Homo sapiens: one gene and its partners. The protein of the gene in region 3 interacts with the protein of the main gene of each other region in a biochemical or structural test. Each region holds a gene or a part of one and is shown on either strand. Other genes may lie near its edges. The genes, in order: CETN1, NEURL4 and CCP110.

Region 1 (3,751 bases), on a different chromosome or scaffold from region 3:
TACCAGGAACTCTTGCTTCCCAGAATGCCCCCTCCTTCCCCTGCCCTCAGATCAGGCCCTTCATACTGATGTTGGCCCAAGTTGCACCTGTTCCCATCCTGACTGCACCTTAGTCCACACTAAGACCTTGAACCTGAACTGTTAGCATCTTGCAGCCTGGGTGAGTTCCCCTACCCTGTGCCAGGCACCTCAGCAAAATCCTCACAGTGAATGCTTCCATACCCATCACTTCAGCTAGTACTGCCGCTTTGACAAATTAGTCCCTGTTAATGAGAATTAAGCCCAGGGTAGTTTGTTCCCCTGATTAGATCCACACCCTCTGAAGGGTAAAATTGCTGGCAAAGCAAGTGAAATGTTCCCAGAATTTGAGCATTTATCTTAATGGGGCTTTGTATGAGGATTTAATTTAGGTTTAGTTGTGACCAAAATATCCTGCCTCTTTGTTTTGTTGCCTGTTATTAAAACATTAGTCAAAGCCTCCATCTCAGCAGATCTATTTGTTATTTTCCCACAATTACATTTTTAAAATTTTCTTTAACTTCAGATTTGTAGCTATGCAAAATGATGATATCTTACTCCAAAGCAAAAAATAATTTATAACAGAAAACAAGCAGTATTAACACATAAACAAGCCACAGTGGAGCAGTTTACTGGGATTTGTAAAATAGAGCACTACTGAAATGCCAGACACTCTGACATCAACTATATGTCAGAGGGGCTAAAAGTCAAGTACCAAGAACCAAGATGTTCTAAGGATTAGCAGGGAGAGTGTCTCATAATCAAGCAGTAATAAGATGACTAAGGTTATAATAGTCCAATAACTAAGATATTTGTTGCTATTTCCAAGGACTATAAGTAGCTTAAAATGTTATATTAAGGTATTTGTTATAATTTCCTAAACTAAGATCCTACATTTGTAAATATTTACTCAAAATCGTTTGTTAGCGTAACCTCTTAAGCAAATTATACTTTGCTTGGGCCAGTATTAGATTTTATTTTTATTCTGTAGCCCAGGTATACATACTAGCCCTAGATAAACCCATGGTGGACAATTTACACATGAACGAAGAATCATTTGCAGGTATAAAGCCAGTGAATAGTCAAAATTGCACAACGTACTACCACCCAAGCAAGTCTATTCTTTATAAGATTATCTGTCCTGAGCTCCGTAAGTTTGTAAGTGGCCACCCTGTTTTCCTTCAAACTGGTATTCAGCTAAGTGGACAGGCTAGGCAAATCTACTGGCAGATTCCATCTCATTATGCTGGAACAATGACTGGAATTTAAGGAATGATATATGAAGCAAGATAATTTAAGACCACCAAAGAAGTGACAAAGGGAACCACATTTTTGTGTGTCCCAGAAGCTGTCCTGCCTCCAGATCAACAGATGAACAGCAAGTTCAGCACAGGGCAAATGGAGGGCGCACTCAAACTTCAGGGCCCTTTGTTTAACCTCATGTGCTCCAGGTTGACTCTTGAGAATTAAAACCCAAAACTCACATTACAAGCATCTTTCAAATTCTATTATTGAACTAGAGATATGGAAATAGATCTAGACAAATTATGGGGGTGAGGGGGTGAAGAAGGGACAGGCAGCCGCTGTCCTCTAAGGTTTCACAAAATGGAAGCAGGCAACCCAGAGAGTCACTTTAGCTTCTGAACCGACTTCAGTAAAGGCTGGTCTTCTTCATGATCCGAAGGAACTCCTCCTCGTTCACTTCGCCGTCCCCATCCCGATCAGCTTCGTCGATCATCTCCTGCAGCTCCTCATCCGTGAGGTTCTCCCCCAGCTCGTTGGCCACACGCTTCAGGTTTTTGAACGAGATCTTCCCGGTCTCATCGTCATCAAAGAGCCTGAAGGCCTTCAGGATTTCTTCTTTGGTGTCCTTCTCGGACATCTTCTGCGTCATCACGGCCAGGAAGTCATTGAAGCTGATCTTCCCCGTGCCTTCCCTGTCCACCTCGGAGATCATTTTCTTCATCTCTTCCTTCCTGGGTTCGAAGCCCAGCGCTCTCATGGCCACCTTCAGCTCCTTCGCGTCGATGGTCCCACTTCCGTCCACGTCGAAGAGGTCAAATGCTTCCCGAACTTCTTGCTTCTGATCCTCAGTGAGCTCGGGCTTAGGTGCCACCTTTCTCTTTTGGCCGGTGGAGGCAGCGCTGGGCTTCTTGAAGCCGGAAGCCATCCTGCCGCTCTGGCCGCCGTGGTCCCAACGGCACCGCCCCGCGCTCTCATTCGGGCGCCCCCCGCCGGCGCGGCGCGGGACCACCCCTCGCTCACTGCCAACGCCCACGCCCGCTGGGGCCTGGAGCCGGCCCGGGGAACCTCTTCCTACGCCCTCCCATCTGCGGGATCTTGCTTAGGCGAGAATCCGCTGTCCCCTCGGGTCATTAACCGGTTTCCACGAGTTGACGCCTGAGCTGGCAAGAACAGCCTGTAGCCACAGTTGTCTTCTGTAATCCACTGGCGCTGGCAGTTCTTTCCAAGATATGTGCTAGCATCCATAAGACCCCAGTTTTATAGGTTTCTTTAGGGACTCTTCCTCTCTCTCTCTCTCTCTCTCCTCTCTCTCTTTTGACAGGAGTGCACTGGTGCCACTCAGCTTACTGCAGCCTCCACCTTCCAGGATCAAGTGATCCTCCCACCTCAGCCTCCATAGTAGCTGAGACTACAGGGCATGCCACCACACCCAGCTAAATTAAAAAAAAAAATTTTTTTTTTTATAGAGACAGAGTCTCACCATGTTGCCCAGGCTGGTCTGAAACTCCTGGGATCAAGGGATTTCCCGCCCCAGCCTCCCAAAGTGCTAGAATTACAGGCATGAGCTACCAAGCCGGGCCTCTCCTTTTTATACCATTTAAAAAACCCTCTTGTTCTAGCGGCAACACCCAATGAGGTGACAGGTCCTAAGGGTAAATTTAGGATAATCAAGATTGAGTGTGATCACTTGACATTCAATGTGGGGAAGGAGAAGGAAGAGAGAATATTAAAAGTCATACCATGTGTTCAACTTGACATAAATGGGAAACAGAGAAAATGGAAAAATTTATGTATAAAATGCGTAGAAGTTTGTCTCCTGACATTACACTCAACAATAATACAATGTTTCTGGCATGTTCTCAAATATGAAATGTAATATCCAAATGTATGATTTACTTTCAGTGTTTCCATTTTACATACTCAGTATAATTGCACTTGAATAATGGTCATAATTTCATTCATGAGGCTTTTGATTTGGAGGGAGGGAAGTGGAAATACTACATTCTGGTATATTCTAGTATTTTCTTTTCTCTAACCTCCTAGCAGCACATTACTCTCCTTGCTTATCATCCAATCAGAGCTGTGCTGAAACCCACGCTCTGGTCGCCTTCCTTTGGCAATGGGCACAGGAGATGATGCAGGACATGTTGGGACTCAAAATTGCCTCCTGGGAATAAAGCGGTTCTCCTACAAACCAAAGAGCAAGAGGAAAATGGAAAAGAAAAAAAAAATTACCAAATAAGCCCACCAAGGAATTGCCTGTAGAATTACTTTGCATTCTTTTAAATAGTTACAGAAAAGAAAGCTGACTTATTTTTTTAGCATTCTCCCCCTGCCCCGCCCCCCCGCAATCAAATCTCAATCTATTAATATATCAATACCTTTTGTAACCTATGAAGGTTACAAAAGATGTCACTTTGAAGAGTTTGTGTTAAAGAGTTTTATGGCTGGGTGCAGTGGGTCACACCTGTAATCCCAGTAATTTGGG
Region 2 (3,651 bases), on a different chromosome or scaffold from region 3:
CACTATCACCCAGGCACCATCATGATGAGCGGCTGTGGAATCCTGACCAATGGCAAGGGCACCCGCCGGGAGTACTGCGAATTCAGTCTGGATGAGTTGCAGGTGAGGGTGGGGCACAGATCCCTGGGCCGCTTTCAGCAGAGCCACAGGTACTCTGTGTCCCTGCCAGGGCACCAAGCAGGGTCTCCTATGTGACCTAGAGGCAGTCCCTGTATCTTCCACCTAAAGGTTCCTTCCTAGAAGCCTGAGTTGCCCAAGAGTTCAGCACTCAGATTTTGGAGTCAGATGGTTGAATTCCTCTTACTGTTTTCCCATTTGTAGTAGCGAACCGGGGCAAGAAGCTTATCCTCTTTGATTGCTCCCCCACCTCCTGCAATCTCTAAAATGAGCCTACGAGTAGTACTTATTCCATAGGCTGAGACTTGTAGAAGCTAATGTCTGTGAGGTGGTTTAACTCAGTGCCTGACTCACGTGGAGCATTGACGAAATGTGGAAATTGTCATGTCTGGAAAACAAGGACCCAGGACCTGTCCTCCAGGGTGGTCTGAGACTCTCACGAATACCTTCTGGAGTTGTTCCTGTGTGGAGTGGGGTGCTGAGCAGGCCTCAGGACTCCTCTAAACTGTTTGTCTTCTTTGATTAGGAGGGTGACCACATTGGCCTCACAAGGAAGTCCAACTCTGCCCTACACTTCTTCATTAATGGTATCGATCAGGGTAAGGGCCGCCCAGAGAGAGCCTCTGGGCCGGGGCTTTCGGTGGGGCTGGGACTGGGGGCTGTACCTCATCCTCCTGCTTCTCTTTGGTGCTTGGCCTCCCTGTGTTTGACTTTCTCCCCTCATTCTCCCTGTCCACTCCCACACCCCCGTACCTTCCTGCCACAGGAGTGGCAACCCCCTTGACGCCCCCAGTGGTGTATGGTGTGGTGGACTTGTACGGGATGGCAGTGAAGGTGACCATCGTCCACAATAACAACCACAGTGACCGTCTCCGCCGAAACAACGCCATCCTGCGGGCGCTGTCCCCCGAGGGTGCTCTCCGCCGTGCTGCCCCTGCCGCCCAGGCAGAACCTGAGCGCCTGCTCTTCCACCCCAACTGTGGGCAGAAGGCAGCCATCACCCACGAGGGACGCACTGCCCTGAGGCCCCAGTATGGCCCATGGGGTGGGGAGAAGCCTGAAGAAGGGATTCTAATGGGGGGGGGGGGGCGGGGCAAGGAAGTGGAAGGCAGAGGGAGCCTGGCGGGGGCAGCTTCCTGGAGGTTGAGCTTTAGTTCTTTGGCTTGGGGCAGTGAGTGTTGGCAGGCATTGCTGGGCTAAGCCTTGGCACATTGAGAGCGTGTGTTGGGGATCTGACTCTCCACTTGCTGTGCCCTCAGTGCCACCGATGACTTCAATCACGGCGTGGTGCTGAGCAGCAGAGCCCTGCGGGATGGAGAGGTGTTCCAGGTGCGCATCGACAAGATGGTGGACAAATGGGCTGGCTCCATTGAAATTGGTGTCACCACCCACAACCCTGCCTACCTCCAGTTGCCCTCCACCATGACCAACTTGCGCTCTGGTGAGCTCCCAGGAAGGGCAGGGACAGGATAGGGTTTTGGGGGGAAGCTATCCCCAAAGCCCTGGCACTTGTTCTGCAGCTCCTTTTTCACTTGTCACTCTTGTGACCACTCATTCAGTGGCTAGAGAGTGTCCCGTGGGCAGGGCTGTGGCTGTCTTGGAAGCTGCAGAGTTTTCTTGTCCTGCTCAGGGAAGAAATCTAGTCATCAAAGAAAAGGCAAGGTGGACTGTGGGCTCGGGAGTCCTGTGGGCGCTGCTGTGGCAAGGAGAGGAGCCCTGCATTTCCCCTCATGTCCCCTCCTGCTCCTTGTCCTCCCAGGGACCTGGATGATGACTGGGAATGGGGTGATGCACAATGGGACGACCATCCTGGATGAATACGGGCACAATCTGGACCGCCTCAAGGTGGGAAAGTGGGTGCGCCGCCTGGCGGCCGCAGCGGGCATCACAAACACCGCGGGGCTGATGCAGGACCAGCCCCGGCAGGAACTCTGCCTGACTCCTCACTCCAGCACCCCCTTCTTCCAAGGCAGGGGACACGGTGGGCGTGGTACGGCGGGAGGACGGGACTCTCCACTTCTTTGTCAATGGGATGACTCAGGGCCCTGCTGCCTGGAACGTGCCCCCGGGCGTCTATGCTGTCGTCGATCTCTATGGCCAGGCGGCCCAGGCCACCATTGTGGACGACGTGGGTGAGGGCCGGGCTGGGCTGGGGCTGGGGGTTAGGGTGGCCTTGGGAGGTCTGAGAGACACCTAGAGACCTGATGGGTGATGTCCACTTTTACAGAGGTGGCTCCAGTTCCTGAACCACTCCCTGAGGGGAACAACCAGGTGTCTCCAAGCTCTCCGTCCTCAGGGGCCGGGGGCTCTGACCTGCGCTTCCATCAGCTGCACGGCAGTAACGCAGTCATCACTAACGGGGGCCGCACCGCCCTCCGCCACAACTGTCGCAGCGAGTTTAATGACGCCATCGTCATCTCCAACCGGTCAGTCTCTCAACTTTCATGTCCCCACCTTCCTCCTGCCCAGCCTCAGCCATGCAAGTAGAGCCTCTCTGATCGCCAGTCTCCTGGCAGGGCCCTGCGGGATGGAGAGCTGTTTGAAATTGTCATTCAGAAGATGGTGGACCGCTGGTCAGGCTCCATTGAGGCTGGTGAGGGCCGTCTGTGTGTGTTGGGGGCTGTTGGATGTCTGTGCCTTGGGGATCGGCCTTGACTTACCCCTGCCTCCTCCCAGGAGTGACTGCTATTCGGCCTGAAGACCTGGAATTCCCCAACACCATGACAGACATTGACTATGACACATGGATGCTGAGGTTGGGCTTCCTGCTTTGGGGACCAGCTTGGGGCTGAGTGGAGCTGGCTGGGATCAGGGAAGCAAGGTTTGGGCCTATGGTGGCTGTGGGTAGTGACAGACCTAGGGGATCTACCTGTCCCCTCCCCTTGAATTCTGGGAAGTCCTGCCCAGGCCCACAGGGGCTCAGTCCTCCTTCATCTTAGGCAGTTCTTGCTTTTTCCTAAGGGGATCCCAGGGACAGAGGAGATAGGATTGGGCCTTACACCCAGATCAAGACACCAGCCCAAGACATTGGAGGGTTCTGACAGACAGGGAGTGGGCAGGGGCCAATGTGAAGTTGAAGTTGGCAGGCTGACTCACCCCTTCTGCCATCCCCCCAGTGGTACAGCCATCATGCAAGACGGTAACACGATGCGCAACAATTATGGGTGTGACCTGGATGCGCTGGGCACAGGTGCACGCATTGGCATGATGCGAACTGCCAAGGGCGACCTGCACTACTTCATCAACGGCCAGGACCAAGGCGCTGCCTGCTCGGGCCTGCCTCCGGGTAAAGGTGACTATGTGGCTTTCAGCCTGCCACCCTCAGCCCAGACCACCTGGCTGTCAGGCTTCTGACCTTCCCTCTCCTCCCCAGAGGTGTATGCGGTAGTCGATCTCTATGGCCAGTGTGTCCAAGTGTCCATCACCAATGCCACCGGCCCCATGGACAACAGCCTGGCGACCAGCAACACTGCCACCGAGAAGTCCTTCCCACTGCACTCCCCAGGTGCGGCAGCAGGGCGGGGGCTGGACGGG
Region 3 (3,651 bases):
ACTCTCATTAACAATTCTCTTAATACTACCTCTCAGCCTGCGTCTAGATTGTTCTCTTTCTATATATTCCTTTGACTTTTTCATCAGATTCTGAAGACTCATTACATAGGGATTTCGAGTAACTGAAATGGAAAATCACATGTCAAAGGAAAAAGTAAAGCTTAGGAACTGAGTCACACAAAAACTGCCTTCCTTTTATTCCTAAACAGATAGCTGCAAAATAGAAGGCCACCTATCTACCCAGGTAGACTCTCTTGCAAATTGCTCACAAGGAAATTCCTCGTAGGCCCCAAAATCTTTACACCAACCCAGAGTTCTGCTGAATTTCACTCTGACAAGATACGGACAAAGACCAAAGATGACTAGAAATCATCCCTTTGGAGACAAATGTATATTTGACTTCTTCCTCTACTCTGCTTACTTTATCCTATGTAAAATGCAGATTTATTGAGCTTGAGATGAATGCATAACTGACTGTTCCTCTACCCCCACCTTTCTCATGCGACTTGTGGATTCAGTGAGTGCTAATCAAAGCCTCACAAAAATGTGATCGCTTATCTCATTACCTACCCTCCTTTTTTTTTCTTTCCTCTTTCCCCTCCTGCTGTTCTCTCCCCTTTATACACTGAAGTCCTCAAAACCTCTTCTGGAAAAGCATAAGCCACAGATTCTACTGTAACTTTTGTCTCTTTTTCCTTGGCACATCCTCAACCTTGGCAAAACAAACCTCTAAATCGATTGAGACTTGCCTCAGTCATTTTCTTCAGTTTACACTACCAACAGAGAAATGAACCCTTAAGGTTCATTATACACGTGTCATCGATACGAATTAAACAGACAAACCACAAACTCCTAAGATTATGAAAAAACAAAAAGATGTTACCAGCAGAACACTGCTATATGTTGTAGAAATTATTCGTTCAATCTAATTCATTTGTTTTTCTTTTTAGTACAAAATGATCCACATGTCAGAACAAATTGTTTATACAAATCTAAAAATAACTGCACAAGGTGTAGATGTGTTGTTTAAATAGTTTTTAGACATAGGATGCATCTAAACAATTCAATGTTATCTAAACTGCATTTTGTGTATCTAAGAGTTTTCACCAAAAAAAAATTGGAGGCAGTTATTTACTTAAGCAAAGAATGAGAATAAGGTCATTTAGTCAATAGTCTAATTAGTTTGGGGTAAACAATAATACCCAATTCTGTCATTTTGTCACTGAGAATTCAATGTTTTTAGAGTCATAAGATGCAAACAATAAGCAATTATATTCAGTGTATGGTTCTATTGTGTAAATATCCTCTGATTCAAGTACTGGGCATTACTAACAAGCAAGTACATTCTCTTTGGAGTAACTGAAATGGAAAATCACAAATTATGAAGCTTCTCAAACGTAACAGTAAAGTACATTAGTAATTAGTTAAGTGCAAATATATTTCAGAAAAATTATCATCAACGCTTATCTTATGATTTCTTTATTATAACTGAAACAGCTAAAATCACACACCTGAACATTGTCAAGAATCTCCTGGACACGAGTCAGTAAAGCTTTCTTCCTGTTAACCTGCTTTCTTGCTTCTACATCAAGTGCTTTCTGCTTTTCTTGTTGCATTTCCTTTCTTTTCTCAATGTTAAGCTGCAAAACATCATAAAAATGTAATTATTTCCCACGATAAAAATATCATAAAATCGGGAAGTTGTGAATCAGAAAGATTAAAAACATGTGCAACAGGCAAAACTAATGTATAGTGAAAGAAATCAGAACAATGGTCTGGGTACTGAGTGGGATGGGGCATTAGAGATCTTTCCATGGTGAAGAAAATCCTGTGTGGGTGTGAGTTATACATGTGTATGCCATATATCAAAACTCATGGAACTTTAACACTTAAGATTTGTGCATTTTGCTATGTGTAAATTATTTTCAGTTAAAAGGTTAAAAAGAAAAAAGTTTGTTCACTAATCAAATGTTCTAAAATGACAGAAATAAAATTAAGGCCCTTTTGGCCACTGCTGAGTTTTTTATTACTTCACTTGAATATTGACTTGAATATTACTTCACATTCAGTATCCTTTTTTTTTTTTTTTTGAGATGGAGTCTTGCTCTGTCACCTAGGCTGGAGTGCAGTGGTGCGATCTCGGCTCACTGCAACCTCCGCCTCCTGGGTTCAAGCGATTCTCCTGCCTCAGCCTCCGGAGTAGATGGGCTTACAGGCGCGTGCCACCACGCCCAGCTAATTTTTGTATTTTTAGTAGAGATGGGGTTTCACCATGTTGGTCAGGCTGGTCTCGAACTCCTGACTTTGTGATCTGCCCACCTCGGCCTCCCAAAGTGCTGGGATTACAGGCGCGAGCCACCGCGCCTGGCCCATCTTCAGTATCTTATTTCACTGGATCAACTGGATTCTACAACTTTTAATTTTCTAACCAGTGCACAATTTAACTCTTTGCTGCCTCAAAAAATGTCCAAAGGTTTAATGATAAAATAAACAGATAATATATTATTTGCCTACAAAAGCAGAATACATCTTTTCTTTCACCTCACTCTACCTTCTGATAAAAATATAATGTACCTAAAAAATGGAAGGCTTCTAAGCATTGTATCTCTTTATAATGGATTTCAATCTTAATTATTAAGTCCTGGGAAATTAAATCACTGTTAACAGTCAAGACTTATCGTAGACTTACACAAATAGAAAATATATCATTAAAAAATTATTTCAAAAGTTGCAATATTCACCTATCAAATACAACATAAAAGTGTGGATTAGGTCCATAAACATCACATTTTGCTTATAAATAAATAACAGACGGAGTCATAGACCCTACACAACAAGCCTCAGACATTTTGGTCCACATTAAATCAAGCAATGTGTTATCAAATAGCTGATAAATATGTTGTTTTAAAACTTTTTCCTAATTGCATGGTACCAAAGAATGATTATACAATTTACTTGCTAATCAAAAGGAGAAAATGTGTACTTTAAAGAGCCATCTGGCAGTCACTACTGTAAGCAAGTGTTCAAACTAAACATCACTAATAGAGGGCAACTAAACATTATGTAACTTCTGATTTAATTTAGTATGAAGTGCAGGGCATCATCTCCAAAGAATTCCTTTTTTTTTTGAGATGGAGTCTCAGGTTGGAGTACAGTGGTGCGATCCCGATCCCTCCTGGGTTCAAGCGATTCTCCTGCCTCGGCCTAACGCACAGCTGGGATTACAGGCACCCACCATCATGCCTAGCTAATTTTTATATTTTTAGTAGACAAGGGGTTTCGCCATGTTGGCCAGGCTGGTCTCGAACTCCTGACCTCAAGTGATACACCCATCTCGGGCTCCCAAAGTGCTGGGATTACATTTTTTTTTTTTGAGAGAGGGTCTCACTCTGTTGCCCAGGCTGTTGTGCAGTGGCTCGATCTCGGCTCACTACCTTTGCCTACTGGGTTCAGTGGATCTTGGCTCACTGCAACCTTCGCCTCCTGGGTTCAAGGGATCCTCCTGCCTCAGCCTCCCACATAGCTGGGATTACAGGCATCCACCACCACGCCCAGCTAATTTTTGTATTTTTAGTAGAGACGGGGTTTCGTCATGTTGGCCAGGCTGGTCTCAGCCTCCCAAAGTGCTGGGATTACAGGCATGAGCCACCC

Evidence for each region.
Region 1: the proteins of CCP110 (region 3) and CETN1 form a complex in vitro, tested with the Homo sapiens proteins (one study listed by BioGRID).
Region 2: the proteins of CCP110 (region 3) and NEURL4 form a complex in vitro, tested with the Homo sapiens proteins (one study listed by IntAct).

The regions. Positions count from the first base shown.
Region 1 is NC_000018.10:578,846-582,596, reverse strand, and holds CETN1 (centrin-1), read right to left. Parts: upstream 2,218-3,751; 5' UTR 2,189-2,217; coding exon 1,670-2,188; 3' UTR 483-1,669; downstream 1-482. UniProt on the Homo sapiens protein: Plays a fundamental role in microtubule-organizing center structure and function. Plays a role in sperm cilia formation.
Region 2 is NC_000017.11:7,322,706-7,326,356, reverse strand, and holds part of NEURL4 (neuralized-like protein 4), read left to right. Parts: intron 1-13; coding exon 14-102; intron 103-643; coding exon 644-716; intron 717-883; coding exon 884-1,148; intron 1,149-1,376; coding exon 1,377-1,558; intron 1,559-1,876; coding exon 1,877-1,962; intron 1,963-2,086; coding exon 2,087-2,249; intron 2,250-2,344; coding exon 2,345-2,543; intron 2,544-2,633; coding exon 2,634-2,710; intron 2,711-2,793; coding exon 2,794-2,872; intron 2,873-3,233; coding exon 3,234-3,409; intron 3,410-3,490; coding exon 3,491-3,622; intron 3,623-3,651. UniProt on the Homo sapiens protein: Promotes CCP110 ubiquitination and proteasome-dependent degradation. By counteracting accumulation of CP110, maintains normal centriolar homeostasis and preventing formation of ectopic microtubular organizing centers.
Region 3 is NC_000016.10:19,530,405-19,534,055, reverse strand, and holds part of CCP110 (centriolar coiled-coil protein of 110 kDa), read right to left. Parts: intron 1,641-3,651; coding exon 1,512-1,640; intron 1-1,511.